2 separate regions of the Homo sapiens genome follow, and region 2 is linked to region 1. Evidence: fine-mapped expression QTL. Tissue or cell type: whole blood. Region 1 holds a variant in brackets; the other region holds the start of a gene. All regions are shown on one strand. Distances are between the middles of the regions.

Region 1 (8,184 bases):
AAAGTACACCAGCTAAAGGACTTGTTGGACCAGATTCTGATGTTGGACCCAGCTAAACGAATTAGCATCAACCAGGCCCTACAGCACGCCTTCATCCAGGAAAAAATTTAAACAAGATGAAGAAACTCCAAGGGTTTGAGTAAATACAAAGACTGAAGAAATTTCACAGCAGTTTATTAATGTATATAAACTTATAAATATTTCTCCAGCAAATTTGAGGAAGCATGATATATTTGAATTAACACCAAGGGTGATATTTCTTTTAGAGATGTTAGTTAATCTGTTTTGTGTCTTACGTGAAATTTCACTGTAGACTGTTTTAAATTGCCAAGACTGCACAAAATTACAGTGCTAATGTATATGGTTGCAGTTCACATAAAGACAAAAGCATCTGTTATGAAATGAGTAGTAATATTGGGTGGTTGATTTGTTCTTAGCAGACTTGGCTTCATTTTGGTCTTGAGATAAAATGGCCAGCATAAATGCTGTTTATATTCACGTTTTCCTAGGTGTGTGTGTGCAGGCCACAGCAGCATGCCCTTGGTGTAGTCAGTGCCGAAAGGGGTCTGTTCCTTCTTGAGCCTGCCTGCAGGGATGGTCTCCTTTTAAAGCAGGTTGTGTGCAGCATTCAGTACACTGAAGGTAAGCTAAACCATCAACATCTCTGGTGTTTTAAGATGTTATTTTATTGGAACAACTGACAAATGAGGGATGTTAGCTTTGTGGCAGAATTCCCTGCATGTGTGATAACTGATCTTGTTTTATTTTTTGGCATTGCAACTGTGGCATAGTTACAATTTCTGTTTGTTCATCACATTTAAAATTGGAAGAGAACGCGCTTGATGGATAGAGCGCCTTCAGTGTACTGTTTCTTATTAACTTTACTTTTTTTAAATCAACTTGCTATAGACTTTATATACATTTTGTTAAATATAGTTCCTAGTGACATAGAAACGATGCGTAGTTTTCATTTACTAATTACAAATGTTGAGGCCTAATTCTGAAAGTCCTCATATTTAAAGGCTAGACAACGTAATGAAATTTTTAACTATTTGTATGTCATTTTGAAAGTGTACTGCTTTATGGTAAAAGTGTTTTTCATTTGTTCATTGTTTTCATTATTTGTGATCATGTTGTCTTTCAATACAGGCATAAACCTTCCACTCTTGAACAAAGCAGCTGCTTTTTAAAAGCGGTAATTGCTTCTTTACCTTTTATTTCTTTTGTAAATGAAGCTTTTCTTTAAGAATGTGACTTTAAAGTGTTGTCTATTGCATAAAACAGTTGACACTCACTTATTGTAAAGTGAAGATTGTTCTACTGCATGTGAAGTGGACCATGCAGATTTCTGTATGTTCTCAGTATGCATCACTAGATAATAAAGTCTTTTGTGAACAAGGCATTTGTAGCCATTTTTAAAAGTTTTTGTCTTCAGTGCTGGTAAGTCAGGTAAACCATAAATAGTTAAAAGCAACCTTTTGTTTTTTTCCTGAAAGTTTTTAATTGAAAGTATTATTAGTTAAAGATGTAAACCTAGCCAAAATTACCAGTTTATTAATAATTAGGATCCTAATTATTTCAAAAAATCCTACAAATATTGTCAGCTTTCAGTGTAGTGAGATTATTCCTGTAGGTTATGGGGTATAATTCAGGATTTAACTAATGTTTCTGCTATTTTCTCACTTTTCCTTTTGATGGTGCGGAAAGAGAAAAAGGAAAACGGGGCACAGGCCATTCGACGCCTTCTCCAAGGGGTCTGATTTGCTGAGACACCAGCTTCACCTTCTTAACAAGGTTATTTCTGACAGCATGTGTAGATAAACATTTAGCAACAATTTAAGACAAAATCGTTTAAATCAGCTTGGTTTTGCAACACAAAGGAATTTGTATTATTAACATGGTAGAAGAGAATTTTTCAGAAATATATGTAATCTTTGCTGTTTGGGGGGTAAAATTAATGCTTGTCTCCCTGAGGAATATGGAAAATAATCAGATTTTAGGGGTTTAAATAATATTTTTAAATTGTAAATGGGATTTTTTTATTCACCCAGGCACCTAATTACAACAAGCATGCACATTTTGGTGCATTCAAGAATGGAAAATCAGAATAGCAGCATTGATTCTTCTGGTGGGTTTTGCTCCATTTAAAGACATGAAATGAACTACAGCCAGGAAGGTGATAGATGATATAATAAGCCACCTCTGAACCTACACCCCGTCTCTTCACGGTTTAGACTTACTAAAATAAATACAAGGTGATTTTCATCTTCAGGTAGAGTGAAGCCTTTTAATTAAGGCGTCACAGGTGCAGCTATTCTACCTTAATGAAATGGGTAGTGATTTTCCCACCATTATTTATTTCGGTGATAATATGCTGCATATTCAAGTCTCTTGTAGTTATTTTCACCCAAAGTAGTTGACAATTTGATGCTTCTGGTGATGTTTATGGCTTCATTTTATGTAATTTTTTAAGTAAGTTCCACTAGAAACAGTTCATCTTATACCTTCAAAACTGTTACCTGTTCTTTAAAAAACAAAGTTGCTTGTTACTTGTTCTTTGTGTTTTAGGTGCAGCTCAGTGGAAGATGATGACAACCAGAAGACATGAGCTAAGGTTTCTGTCCTATAAAAGATTTATTAAAAAACAATCCTTCATTTATTTTTTGTCTAATTTTTTAGTTTTCAGCATTATGATTTGGGTTTTATTGGTGTTTGGTATTTAGAATTAGTGCTGTTGTGGAGTGCGTCTGTAAAGTGCTTGTTTTATCATACTTCCTGCCTCTCCCCTCCCCCAGTTTCTCCTCCCCTAAAATAAAAATAGTGGTCAACTTTAGTAATATAAAAGGCTGCTGGATGCTGAGATTCCACATAACACATGGTTGTCAAAATTGGATGTTAAGGATTCTTAGAAAAACAGCAACCACCAGAATAGCATATATCTGAAAGTAGTCTTCAGCTTTAGGCAGATGCAAAAGAATACAAACTGGAATATTAAGAATACTGTTCAACTCCTTTAGTATCTGTTCCCCAACTTACCCTGTAGAAACCTCGTTATTAACCAGTGTTCCAGTCTTAAAGTAGACAAAATATTCAGAGCCATTTTTTTTAAGGGAAATGAAAAAGATACTCTGGGTTTTTTATACTCCCCAATTTAGCATATCTAGACTACCTATTTGAAAGGAACCCTATCAACTGTCTTATGTACGTTACATGATTTTCCTACACTCTGTAATTTTGCTGAGGTGCAATTTGGAACTCTGCAAGACCTACTAGATTGAATTTATTTAGTGAATGCTCCTGAATAAATGTGCATTCCTCTTTTAGAGTAGCTGTATGCTTTTCAAATGCTATCTGCCGTGAATTTTTTGCTTTTATTATACTTTATGGCAAAAGTGATATCAAGTGATTGTCAGACTTGAGGGCTCATAGAAGTGTTAGGTACGGCTCTCAAAGATGTTACAGTTTTTTCTAGGGTTGGGAGAATAGTTGAGATCTGGAAAGCATAGACATTTTTTACACTCTGGATAGACTTTATTCTTGAAGATCATCAGAAATGAGGTTGGAATTTCGAGGTTTTGAGCAGGGGGAGCATCTTATATTCACCCTTAAATCGTTATTAATACATCCTGTTTTCTTCATTCCCTGATAGCTATCTCATTTCACTCTACTGTCTCAAAATTTTGTTTTAAAATAATAGAAATGTTTTGCCATTATTAAGTACCACTTTATTCCTAACAAAAATAAGTACTCAGGACTTTTTTTTCAAAATGAAATATTTATGTACTGTTTTATGGTATGTGGTAGAGTAAGTAAAATGTAATGTTCTCAGTTTTGTTCCATATTTGCATTCCTCTTATGCTTTACCTGTATTTTATCATTTGTAAGCAGAACTCTAGCTATATGGGGTAGAAATAAAATCTCTGAGATGAAACAAAGGAATCAACATGATAAAATTTAGGCGAAGTAGTTAAGAAATGGCCCTTTTGAATGTTGAAGATAGGAAAGAAAGCCATATATTCAAATATGTAATTTTCCTCATTTAGTTATAATGACATCTTTACCAATTGGGCTTCATAAATGTGTTTCTTTCTTAATAGTATCCTAGTTCCAGCATATATTCAACATGAATTTTATCATTCTCCTCCTAATGGAATGTCTTCCTTATAGAAATGTTCACGACAAATTCATTTGTGTTTTTTACATGTC[A/G]ATAATGTATGCTAAATTAAAATGTTTTCCAGTTATTCTGATAGATGTCATTATGGCATCCTTAATTTTTCTTCTCCTTCTGTATATAGGGTAAGGGACTGTTCTGAAGAACCTTTCCATTTAGTGATCAAGATATGGAAGCTGATTTCTGAAAATGCTCAGTGTGTACTCTAATTATTTATGGTACCATTTGAATTGTAACTTGCATTTTAGCAGTGCATGTTTCTAATTGACTTACTGGGAAACTGAATAAAATATGCCTCTTATTATCATATTGTCTCCTGGTTTTTTTCTTTGGTTGAGTTCAGATTTTCCTCACAAACATCAAAACATTTTCAAAGCATTAGGTGCACAACACCAAAGAGTGTATTATATTCGTGTTCCTGTTACATACATTTCTGCTTTGGTTTTCCTAGTAAAGGAAACAGATAAGTAATGAGCCAACTCCTGTTTTTATAATGATAAAAATAAATTGGTTCATTGCTCACATGATAGCTTGACAAATCTTGGGCTCTTATCCTCAGTATACCCACTCTTTATTTTCTTCTTTTAAGGAACTGTTTTTGGCTTTTCAAAACAGTGAGTAAAATAGATTCACAGTGTAGTTTGTGAATCTTAGTGCATGCAAAGCAGATAAGGCAGGCAGAATGGCCTTGTAGAATGCACCCACCCACCCCATTGGAGCTAACCACCGCAGAGTGGCAGGTAGAAGCTAGTATGCTTGATTCTGGGCTGAGAAATGGTCAAATGGCACTGGCTCTGGATAGTCTTCATGTAAAGGCCCCAGTTATAATTTTGTTAGACTGCATAACTATCTAAAGTGGCTATGAGGTTATTGTATCTGGTACATTTTAGGGAAAATAGTATGCAGGATGTATTGGTTAAGGACCTTTCACACATACTTTTTTTCTTTCTTTTTTTCTTTTTTTTGAGACGGACTCGCCGTCTATCGCCAGGCTGGAGTGCAGTGGCACGATCACAGCTCGCCTCCGCCTCCTGACCTCAGGTGATCCACACGCCTGAGCCTCCCAAAGTGCTGGGATTACAGGCATGAGCCACCACACCCGGCCACACATACTTTCTCTAATTAGAAAGATTCAACCTCATGAAGATCCAGTGAGCTGAGGACCATCAATGACTGGAGAGCTAAACATGGGTATTTATCAGCAAACTAGGTTTTCCCGAACAGAATTTATATGTGTGTTATAAACTGCCAAATGTTTTCTTATTTAAAGATAATGGTGGGCGTTGACTTCCACCAAGTATGAAAAATAGCCAAATATTTTGTATTCATGTCTCCAGTTTTGTCCACTACATATGTAGACAAGTGGGTCCCACTTCACCTGTTTGAACCAGGTCTTTTTCCCCTGTCAGTCTACAGGATAAATTTGAGATGATACATCTCTAATCCCTACAAAACTTGCCACTTCTGGTCTCAGTCCCATCTCCCATGCCCATTCCCACGCCTAGTCTTACTGAAAGGGTTTGTGTCTGTTGCACCGTACCATTTCCCTGTGCCTTGGCACATGCCCTGCAAGAAACAGGACATTGTTAGGAATTATTGTTCTGCACCTAACTAGTGCTAAGGAGGTCCATTCTCGAGATGGTTTGCCCTCCTGTGTCATTCTTACTTCCCTAATGTATTTTGTGAATACTTGTATATGCCAGGCACTTTTGCTGCTGGTCATTTAACCCGCACATGATTATATGAGATAAAGACAGTCTACCCACTTTACCCATCAGAAAAGTGAAGCAAGAGAGGTTAAGGAAACTGCTAAAGGTGTTAGGTGTTCAGTGGCAGGAGTCTGGGTTCGAATTTAGACAGCCTAGCGACAGAGCTAGTGCTTGTAACCACTATGTCATGCATGACAGTTGGTAGTCAAGTACTACCTGCCAGGATACAGTGGTGAGCAAACAGGCATGTCCTTTCTGAAGGTTTTACAAATAAAAATTACATCATAACCCTGGGGGTGAGGGAAAGAATCCAGGTAGCTAAGGAAAGTAGAAACGAGAATGGACACAGAGGGCTTGTCAAAAAGGTTCAGTACACAAGTTAGAAGGAATTGTAAGAATTAAAGATGGTTTGTGGGAAACAGGTCACTGCAAGTTGGAATTTAGTGAAAATGTAAGTCCACTTTGGCATATACTTTTATGAGAGGGATATTATACCACTTTGGATTAACGGGACTGATTGTATGGGATACAGGTAAAATTTCATTATGCTAAGACTAACCAATTACGTTTGTTTTCTATTGCTGTGCTATATGATTCTAGAAAATTCTTTGAAATTAAAAACTAAGCATGCTCTCTGACCCCTGCCTCTAAGAAAACTTTGAACCTTAAGCTACTAAAGCTGGAAAAGCTACAGTTGTTCTCTTCTGCATTTATTTGAATTATTCATTAATTCACTCATCCCTAACTCAAATATTCCAATATTCCATCTCATTTGCAGGGATGACACCCAAACATTTAGTGGCTGTCTTTGTGTGTGGGGTTACGGGGGGAACGGCTTTTTTTTTTTTTTTTTTTTTGAGATGGAGTTTTGCTCTGTTGCCCAGGCTATGGGCAATGTCGGCTCACTGCAACCTCCACCTCCCGGGTTCAAGCAGTTCTCTGTCTCAGCCTCCAGAGTAGCTGGGATTACAGGCACCCACCACCACGCCCAGCTAATTTTTGTATTTTTAGTAGAGACAGGGTTTCACTATCTTGGTCAGGCTGGTCTTGAACTCCTGACCTCGTGATCCACCCACCTCAGCTTCCCAAAGTGCTGGGATTACAGGTGTGAGCCACCACGCACAGCCACCTTACTTTTCATTTGGTACCTTTGGATAATGGTTGAAGTTTTAATTGTGTATTTTTTTAATTTTTAGAAAAATTAATTTGAATTCACCAACCATCCACTTAAAACCCAAACACAGTATATTCCAAAATATCTGAACCTCTAATTTATGTATGTTACATCAATCCTTTCCTTTACATCTTTCAAAGTGTGATCCAAGAACCACCTGCATTAAAATCACCTGGAATATTTGTTTATAATGTGTGTCCATGGGTCCCAATTCCAAAGATTGTGTTTCAGAGGGCCTGCAATAGAAGCTAGGACTCTATTTGTTTCCTTGATTCTTAGGGGCAGTAAAGTTTGTCAGTCACATAGTTTTCCTTTTTCGCTAGTTAATGAGTTATGTGTTGGCTGAATGAATTTCAACTAACCAGCCTTAAGACTTCCAGCAGTGCAGAGCCTTGGAAAAAACTCTAGTAACATGACATTTTGGCTGCTCTGTGGACAATGATCTTACTCAATTTTTCCTTCAACATTTAGAAAATACTGGATCTGAGTGGAAGAGGGTTATTTCAAGCCTAAACCTGTAGTTGGGCCCCAAAGAGAACTATCTTTCATGTAAATGACAAAGAAAGGCCAGGGACAGAAAATTTCTAAGGATTTGGGAGGAGCTAGGAGGATCTAGAGGATCTTGTACATTAACAGAACAACAACTTCTTTAGCTTTTAAGGGCCAAGTAAATGCCCAAAGGATAGGTCAAAATGATAGATCTGTGGAGATGAGGGCACAGGAAAAAAAAAATGATACCAGAGTGAGAAAGACTTTTTAAAAAATCAACTCTTATGACTATATGACAAGAACTACAGCTGCAATAAGTCAATTATACCATTTATTGATGGAATTATACTGGAAAACAATCACTGAAAAAAGAGTAGCCTTTTGAATAGAATAGTCTACCAAGTGAACCATTTACTTGAAACACAACATGCAAAAGATTGTGAAATATGTCAGTATAGAAGCCTGTGGGTTTATATATAGACATCTCAGCAGTGCTTTTCACAAGTTCTACTCCATATCACATCAAGCAACTGTTTGGTGATTTTGGGGGACTGTTAATAGTACCTGTGTCTTGGAATAATTAACCATATCTTAGTTGGGCTTCTTAGAGTAGATGTGTTCACATTGAGATGTATGAAAGA
Region 2 (8,184 bases), 43 kb before region 1:
AATCTAGCTACTGCCTCATCACATAGTAGTTACAAGCAACAGTGCAAAGTTGAAATAACCTAGACATACAATAACAAAGGAAAAAGAGTGTAGTTATAAAAATGCTTACTGAAACTAGAATTATGTATGTAAAAATTGGGAGACATGTTACATGAAAGAGCAAACTATCATATTCTACACGTGAGTACAAGAAAATTTAACATTTCATATGGAAAAAAGCCAAAATAAACCAATATATTCAAGTTGGTTCAGTGTGGGTAATGGAACTCTGGGTGATTTTCATTGTTTTGCTTTGTTATCCTTTGGTTTGCACCAAAATTGCTTCAATACTAACAACAAAAACAACAAAAACAAATTACGTTCTCATAAACTTTGTTTTGTAACAAAGGAAAATTCTGCCCAGTGTTCCAAACACCTCAAAGTTCCAAGTCTAGGTCTAAACCAGAGTCGTTAAGTATTCTCTGAAAAGCGATCTACTCTTAATTGACATCTGGCGACTCTACATGGACCAATGGCTTCCTCCGCAGGATGTTATGATCTTTATTTTGTTTGTAGCCTACGGAAGAATGAGCCTATTAAGAGCTTATTGAGATTGATGATTGCACAGTGTAGCTTGAAAGGTCCAAATTTAATCCGTTTCAACGGGAGGAACAAAATTCAAAACTGTTTTCAAAGTATTTCGAGAATGTGTCCCTTATCTGGAAGTAATACTTAAAACGAAGCAAACAAAGACGGTAAGAGAAAGTCACAAATGCAAGCTCGCGCCCGAAGCCAGCCTCGGGCAGGTACACTTTGGTGTGGTGTGGCGGCGGCAGGGCGCCAAGCGCCGTGGTTTTTACGGTCTCGTCAGCAAGCAGGGCCGACCTCCGCTTTATCGGACAGGACCAACGCAGGATCCGGGGCGCGGCGGCGACAGGGCCCCGAGGCAGATGCCCGAGCTAGAACTCTGGCGCCTACTTACTCCTCGGCCGGCCCGGCTGCTCCGAAAAACGACCTCACAGGAATGGCTGCAAGAGCGCCGCCGCCGGCAGGGGCTGAGGAGAACGAGCCTGGGGCTCCGGGCCCAGAGATGAGACGCTCTGGCTGGGAAGCAAGGAGCATCGGCACCGACGGATAGAGGCCGGTGGCCCTCAGGTTGAGCAGGCGGCTTCGGGGCGGGGAGAGAAGGGACCAAGGCCCACCGCAGGCCTCAGATCCTCCCACGCCTCCCCGCTGCTACCCAACGATGACGCAAGTACGCATGCGCCTCCCCAGCTGCCGCTGGGAAGAGCGCGCTCCCCAGGGCCCCGCCCCCTCCAAGGATTTCCGGGGAGGCGGGTTCCACTGCTGACTTACCGGTTTTACTCCTCTGCTCAAAAGGCGCCTGCCCGAGGCCGCTTTCCGTTGCAAAGGTTCCTGAATTTGGGGAGGAAGAGCAGCAAGACTGAAATATTGGGCATACGTTTGTTGCTTCATAAACGTTTGCTGAATGAATAAACTGATACGCCGATGTTTGCTTTAATTGTAACTCCCCCTGCCGCAGTTCCCAGTCTTTGAAAATTACAACAGCAACATAGTTTTGGGCGTGTCCTTGACAAATGTGTTTCATTCCCCAGGTAGTACCGTGCAAGTGAACTTGGTGAGAATTTTTTCAAGGAAATTTTTGCCAGCATCGATTTTTGAAACTTAGTTTTTACCATGCTCTTTAAAAAAATAAACACTTGGTTTGTTCAAATACCAACTTTAGTCACACAATCTGGCTTCAGCACCTATTGTTCGGGCCCCATATATCGTTCTCCACACTTAGGATGCTTCATCTCCACATAAAGCATAACTGCAAAATACACAGGGCAGAAGGAGACCTGGGAGATAATACTATGGTTGCAGAAATTAAGACCAGCCTGAGCTCTCGACAACAAGAAAGAGACACAGCGAAAACAAGGCATTTATTTATAATAGGCTCTTGCAAGCAAGGAAAAATAAGGCATTTTCTGATTCGAACGTAGTGCTCTATTACCCCTACTCAACAAACATTTGAATGCCAAAGAGCTGTGAGGGTGGATGCTTAACAAGCAGATGCTAAGCGAGGTTATATTTTTGTAGGAAGCAGCCTGATAAGAAAAGAGCAGATTTTCGAGTCAGATTTTAGTTCAAAAATCAGCTTTGTACTTGGGAACTCAATCATAAGCAAATTACCTTACCTCTTAGTGTCGGTTTGTTCATGTGTAAAACGTGTTAATAGTACCTGACCCAATCTCTTGCCTTCAAGTATATCACTCTATTTCCAAGATGAGATCTCTCACAGTTCTACTACGTACACCGTTAATTTTAACATTATTTAAAAATAGTTTACTAAGTTTATTTCATTTATTTATTTGAGACGGCGTTTTTGCTTTTGTTGCCCAGGCTGGAGTGCAATGGCGCGATCTCGGCCTCCCGGGTTCAAGCGATTCTCTTGCCTCAGCCTCCCGAGTAGCTGAGACTACAGGCGCCACCACGCCGGCTAATTTTTTGTATTTTTAGCAGAGACGGAGTTTCGCTATGTTGGCCAGGCTGGACTCGAACTCTTGAGTTCAGGCAATCCGCCCGCCTCGGCCTCCCAAAGTGCTAGAGGATTGCAGGCGTGAGCCACCGCGCCCGGCCCTAACATTTCAAAACGTTTGGAATTCAGGCAACAAGAGACATTTTGTAAGAACATTTAAAACCCTTCTCCCCTGGAAATCAAGAGATATGTATGGAGTCTGGAGATTCCGAACTCAATTTTCTAGGACAAAGGCAAACTCAGATGATTACAAGAATGAAAGTGATCGTCACGCTGCTTCCAGGTTCCAAAGTATGGATAATTTTTTTTTTTTTTTTGAGATGGAATCTTGCTCTGTCGCCCAGGCTGGAGTGCAGTGGCGTGATCTCAGTGCAAACTCCGCCTCTCGGGTTCAAGCGATTCTCCTGCCTCAGCCTCCGGAGTAGCTGGGATTATAGGCGAGCGCCACCACGCCCAGCTAATTTTTTGTATTTTTAATAGAGACGGGGTTTCACCATGTTGGCCAGGCTGGTCTCCAAATCCTGGCCTCAGGTGATCCGCCCGCCTCGGCCTCCCAAGGTGCTGGGATTACAGGGGTGAGCCACAGCGCCAGGCGAGAAATATTTTTTTAAAGAGGAATTAAAGAACCTAATTGGTTTTGAGAGTTCTCCAAGAGCCAGTAAATGTTTTCCCCACAATATTCCATTCTACCCCATTACTGTAGAGTCGTTATAGAAGAAAACAAAATCACATAACGCAACTTGGGCCAAAAAACATTACACGTTCCAATTACGGAAATAACGAACTGAATCGTGTCACCCTTGAACTATGTAAAAGTTGAAAAGATGTTCAGTGTTAAATGTAGTAACAGTTCCACATTAAAAGATATTTACGTTCGAGTTTACAGTATTTAAAAATGCCTTTCTACACACTTTCCCGGGAAGTTAATGCCACTTCAGTTGAGCTGTCTAGCGAGATGGTTAAGCATTTACTGTGTCTCTAACACCGACCAGGGGAAAAATCATCAATTCGTTTGCCCGAGTTTAAGAGAATTTTCACCTAACTTCTAATCTCCACAGCCAATCAGTTCTTGGAACCGCACACCCGATGCCGACATCCCTCTCTTGTTGGCTCCCCTCGTTAGCGGGATTCAATAACTAAACGTCCATTTCTAGCATTGACTGAAGAGCTCAAGCTTGACACTCGACCTCAATCCTTAGCAGCACCGCCCACCATGCTCCCGGAAGCTGCGACACTACGCCCTGCGCTAGTCCCGGGACGTGGGGTTTTATATCCGGATTCTTAGCGCGGACTCAGAACCCAGCTCTTCCCTACACGGTCGGCACATGCGCGGCAGCTCTTTTCCTTCTTCCTCCACTTCCCCTACCCTCCACCGTCCGGGAGCCGCCGCCACCGCCGCCGAGGAGTCAGGAAGTTCAAGATGGCCGCCGCGGAGACCCAGTCGCTACGGGAGCAGCCAGAGTAAGTAGTCTCTGTGAGTGGGCCAGAAGCTGGAGCCCGGGGACTGCCGAGTGGGAGCTGCACGGGGTGGCGGGAAAGTTCGGGCCTAACGGCGAGAGTCAAACTTTGCTTTTTCCGGCGCGATTCGTTGTGGGGTGGGAGGCATGGGGAGCAGGCGGCCTTCGAGCTTCCTTCTCCCAGAGGCCGTGGCTGCTGGGGTGAAGGCGGCCGCGGCCTGCCGCGCGTCGTTGCCCCGGGAGGCGTAGGCGCGAGCGGCCTCTACAGGTCCGGTGCGCGTGGCGGCTGCCGCGGCAGTGAGGTCGCGCTTTCCTATGCCTCTTTTGGGGACCCATCTGAGCTCCCTGGCCGCAGCTCTTAGCGGCATCTGTGTTGGGGACACGAGGGTCAGTGGCAGCAGGCGGGCCAAGCCCTAAGTCTTTTCTTCCTCATGCGGTACCCCCAGTCGTCCTTTTACTGGTGTCAGTTTAGGACCTGAAAGCAGAGAGCGGAGGTGCTGGGGTCACACTCTCTGGCCATCCCAGAGCTAGTCTGTGGCTAGCGGGATACTTGATCTCGTCACCTTGTACTCTTTAGTCCAGCAGTCACCCAGTATTGTTTTGTTTTGTTTTGAGTGCCTACCGGCAGCTTTTTTACCAACTTGCAAACTTGAGGCAAAGTAAGATAGAGTCTTTGGTTTTGAGGCCTGGCATTTTTTTTTTTTTTTTTTTTTTGCCTGAGTTTATAACCCTTCTTTAGGAGGACGAGTGGAAGGAGTAGTGGGAATTGCTAGCTACTGCCAAACCACTTTATGTCTATAATTAAGCTAACATTAAGAATCCATGCGGCCAAATGAAAAATGAAAAAAAAAAAAATACGAGTGTATGCTGCAAAGGTTAACCATTGGTTAACTTAAAGCAGTATTTTGCTGTTCATGTCTATGTTAGGAAAACTCAAACAAGAACCTTAACAGAGAGAATGGATTTTACGGCAATGTTCCTATAGCGACCGTTTTTTTTTTTTGTTTTGTTTTTTGTTTTTTTTTGCATCTGCACTGTCTGATCTGTTTCCAGCCATCTTAGAAAGAGGTATAGTCTCCCAGCAACTTGTGACTGAGCGATAGAAGAAATCTTTGCCACCAGACAACCTGACACTTAATTGCTGTGCATCCAGTTTTGGGCTCCTCAATCATCTGCATTACTCAGCTAGGCAGAGAAACGGAATTTTTAATTAAGGGCTTTTCAAAACTGCTGTATTATTTTTACAATTTGACTTAGCAGAGAACAAATGGATTCTGAAGTTTTAAATTAGCTTTAACCTCTTACTGTTTCTCACCAAGTTCATTGTGTGGCACAATTACAGTGTTTATGCCAGTACCGTGCAGATCTCATGCTATGTGGTTACATTTTCTACTAATCTGAAAAGTTCTGTAATATTATGTCCATTTATTTGATTTTAGGGATGTTTCAGATTCATTTCCAGGAGTGGGTCAGCCATAGTTTATTCACATACTGTATTCAAATAATATTAGACTTAATAATTTCAAAAATACATATTTAGGCCTCTGCTGTATGAGTAACAGAGATAATCTTTAATTTCCCTTCCCTTCCCCACAGAGCACTTGGTGTAAATGGAATATTTGGTCTGTATATGTCTCACTTTCAGTAGTTTGAAAGTATTTAACAAAGAAGATAACCATTTGGTATGAAAGCAAACTATGCCTGGTGCTCATAGTGAGTCCCTGAATATAGTGTCTACAACAGTTCTTTAGAGAACACTGAGTAGTTTACAGTTATATAGAATCTATTCAAAACAGAAAATTTAGAAAGAATAAATATAAGAAGCAGCTTTTAAGCTCCCTGAAGGCTTTAATTCTTTTAACAACCCTATGGAGGTAGATACGTTTATTTTCCTTATTTTAGAGATGATGAAACTGAAACACAGAGAAATTAAGTAACTTGCTCAAGGTCACACTCAGTGGCACACCCATTTAAACTCAGGCAGTCTGGTTCTAAAGCCCTGCTGCTAACTATTGTACTGTCTGGCCTCCCACTATACAATGTGGCTTCTTTTTAAATTGCTTGTCAAGTATGAAATTATTTTTGTTTTTTTCCACTGTCCCAGAAAGATACATTTTTTGATGTGACATGTCTAATTTATTGAGAACTAATTTCTCAAACCTGATTTGGCAAAGCAGAGACCAGAGGGAATGTTTTAAGACTAGTTGGTCTTTTGGACCCATTCTGATTTTTATAGCTACATTAATTCTTTTTGTTCATTTTATTTATTTTTGAAACACGAGCTCTTGTCACCCAGACTGGAGTACAGTAACATTATCATGGCTCATTGTAGCCTCAGCCTCAAGTGATCCTCCTACTCCAGCCTCCGGAGTAGCTGGGACCACAGGCATATGACACCATGCCCAGCTAATTTTTTTTTTTTTGAGACGGAGTTTCACTTTCTCTCCAGGCTAGATTGCAGTGGTGCGATCTTGGCTCACTGAAACCTTGGACTCCCTGGTTCAAGCAGTTCTCCTGCCTCAGCCTCCCGAGTAGCTGGGATTACAGGCACGTACCACCACGCCCAGCTAATTTTTGTATTTTTAGTAGAGATGGGGTTTCACCTTGTTGGCCAGGATGGTCCCGATCTCCTGACCTCGTGATCCGCCCACCTCAGACTCCCAAAGTTCTGGGATTACAGGCGTGAGCTACCGTGCCGAGCCATGCCTAGCTAATTTTTAAGTATTTTTGTAGAGGCAGAGTCTTCCCATGTTGCCCAGGCTGTTCTTGAACTACTGGGCTCAAGTGCTGCAGGTACTAGGGAGTCTGAGGCAGGAGGATCATTTGAGCCTAGGAGTTTGAATCTAGCCCAGGCAACATAGTGAGACCCAGTTTCTTAAAAGATATATACATTTTAACTTGTCAGAGAAATAGGCTTAATTACTTTCCTGGTAAATAGCAGTGGCGTTCACTTTGCTCGCCACTAAAAAAAAATTTAAAGAATTGTCTAGCTTAAAAACGGCTTTATTCATACACAAATTTAAATCAGTCAGTTCTCTGTGTCTCTGTATATTTTGAATGCCTACCAAATAAATTCACTAAGACTATTGTTTGGAAAAAAATGTGAAAGAAGAAGTTAAAATAACACTGGTGGTTGGTGATTGGTGACTATTTTATTTTTTTGAGACCGAGTCTCTGTTGCCCAGGCTGGAGTGCAGTAGCGCAATCTTGGCTCACTGCAACCTCTGCGTCCCAGGTTCAAGTGATTCTCCTGTCTCTGTCTCCCGAGTAGCTGGGATTACAGGCACGCACCACCATGCCGTGCTAATTTTTGTATTTTTAGTAGAGACGGGATTTCACCATATTGGCCAGGCTGGTCTCAAACTCCTGACCTCAGGTGATCCGCCAGTCTCAGCCTCCCAAAAGTGTTGGGATTACAGTCATAAGCCACTGCACCTGACCGTGACTATGTTATTTTAAAGGCGTTCCACGATTTTCATTCATTGTGCTGGGTGCCTCAAGACATGGGTTTTTTAAAAGGTAAAACTTAACAAAACAAATAAATACTGTTAAGCAACCCCATGTTGTCTGCACTTCTCATTCACCTTTGCTTCCAAATAATGTGATCTGAAGAATGTTATCCAATATTCAATAGGTTCTCAATAAATATTTTGTGATAAACCTGTTGTGACCAGGTTGGTATACACATCCACTTGGCTAAATGTGGGATATTAAATTGTAAAATGTTAATGTTAAAGCGTAAATTTATATAAATGAAATATATATGGCCTATATTTATTGTCAGTATAAACTATCCAAGAGGGCCGTTAGGTTTCTTAACAAGAAACCTTTTTCTTGAGCTTTAGAAGAAAGTCGTTGATGATAAAGCTAATTTAGCTGTTTTAGCACAGGCCCATTGTATGTAATACATTATGCCATTGACTCAATGTTTCAAGTTTTCCAGATTGACCTGGTCAGACTTTAGTTGTGATTTGTGACATTTGCATTGAGAGATGAGTTGAGACTGGTAAAGATCCATTGTATGCCTAGCCCCTGTATAAGAAAATGCTATAATTAAGGTTAACCTGATTGTACCGAGCTGGTAGCATTTTTAGCAGGAACCTACTCATTATTTCTTGAGATAATACTCATTAATTTACAATGGAAACTAGTCACTCATGGGAATGACCCTTCTACAGTGATACTGGTCATCATGATGTATTTCTA

Evidence for each region. PIP is the estimated chance that this variant, and not a neighbour inherited with it, causes the effect.
Region 2: it holds the start of PRP4K, and the variant in region 1 is fine-mapped to the expression of PRP4K in whole blood (TOPMed, PIP 0.92).

Annotation. Positions count from the first base shown.
Region 1 is chr6:4,060,506-4,068,689 of GRCh38, forward strand. It overlaps PRP4K (pre-mRNA processing factor kinase PRP4K), which reads left to right. Exons shown (of 15, transcript NM_003913.5): 15 at 1-4,478. The coding sequence ends at 111. FAM217A (family with sequence similarity 217 member A) reads right to left here. Exons shown (of 7, transcript NM_173563.3): 7 at 7,862-8,184. Among named protein-coding and RNA genes, the nearest start is that of FAM217A, 15 kb to the right of the region's middle. The variant A/G (reference allele first, on the strand shown) is at 4,207.
Region 2 is chr6:4,017,485-4,025,668 of GRCh38, forward strand. PRP4K (pre-mRNA processing factor kinase PRP4K) reads left to right here and starts at 3,816. Exons shown (of 15, transcript NM_003913.5): 1 at 3,816-3,982. The coding sequence starts at 3,942. LOC124901245 (a long non-coding RNA gene) reads right to left here and starts at 3,683. Exons shown (of 2, transcript XR_007059415.1): 1 at 1,336-3,683. RefSeq lists enhancers at 1,068-1,117, 3,647-3,956, 4,999-5,058.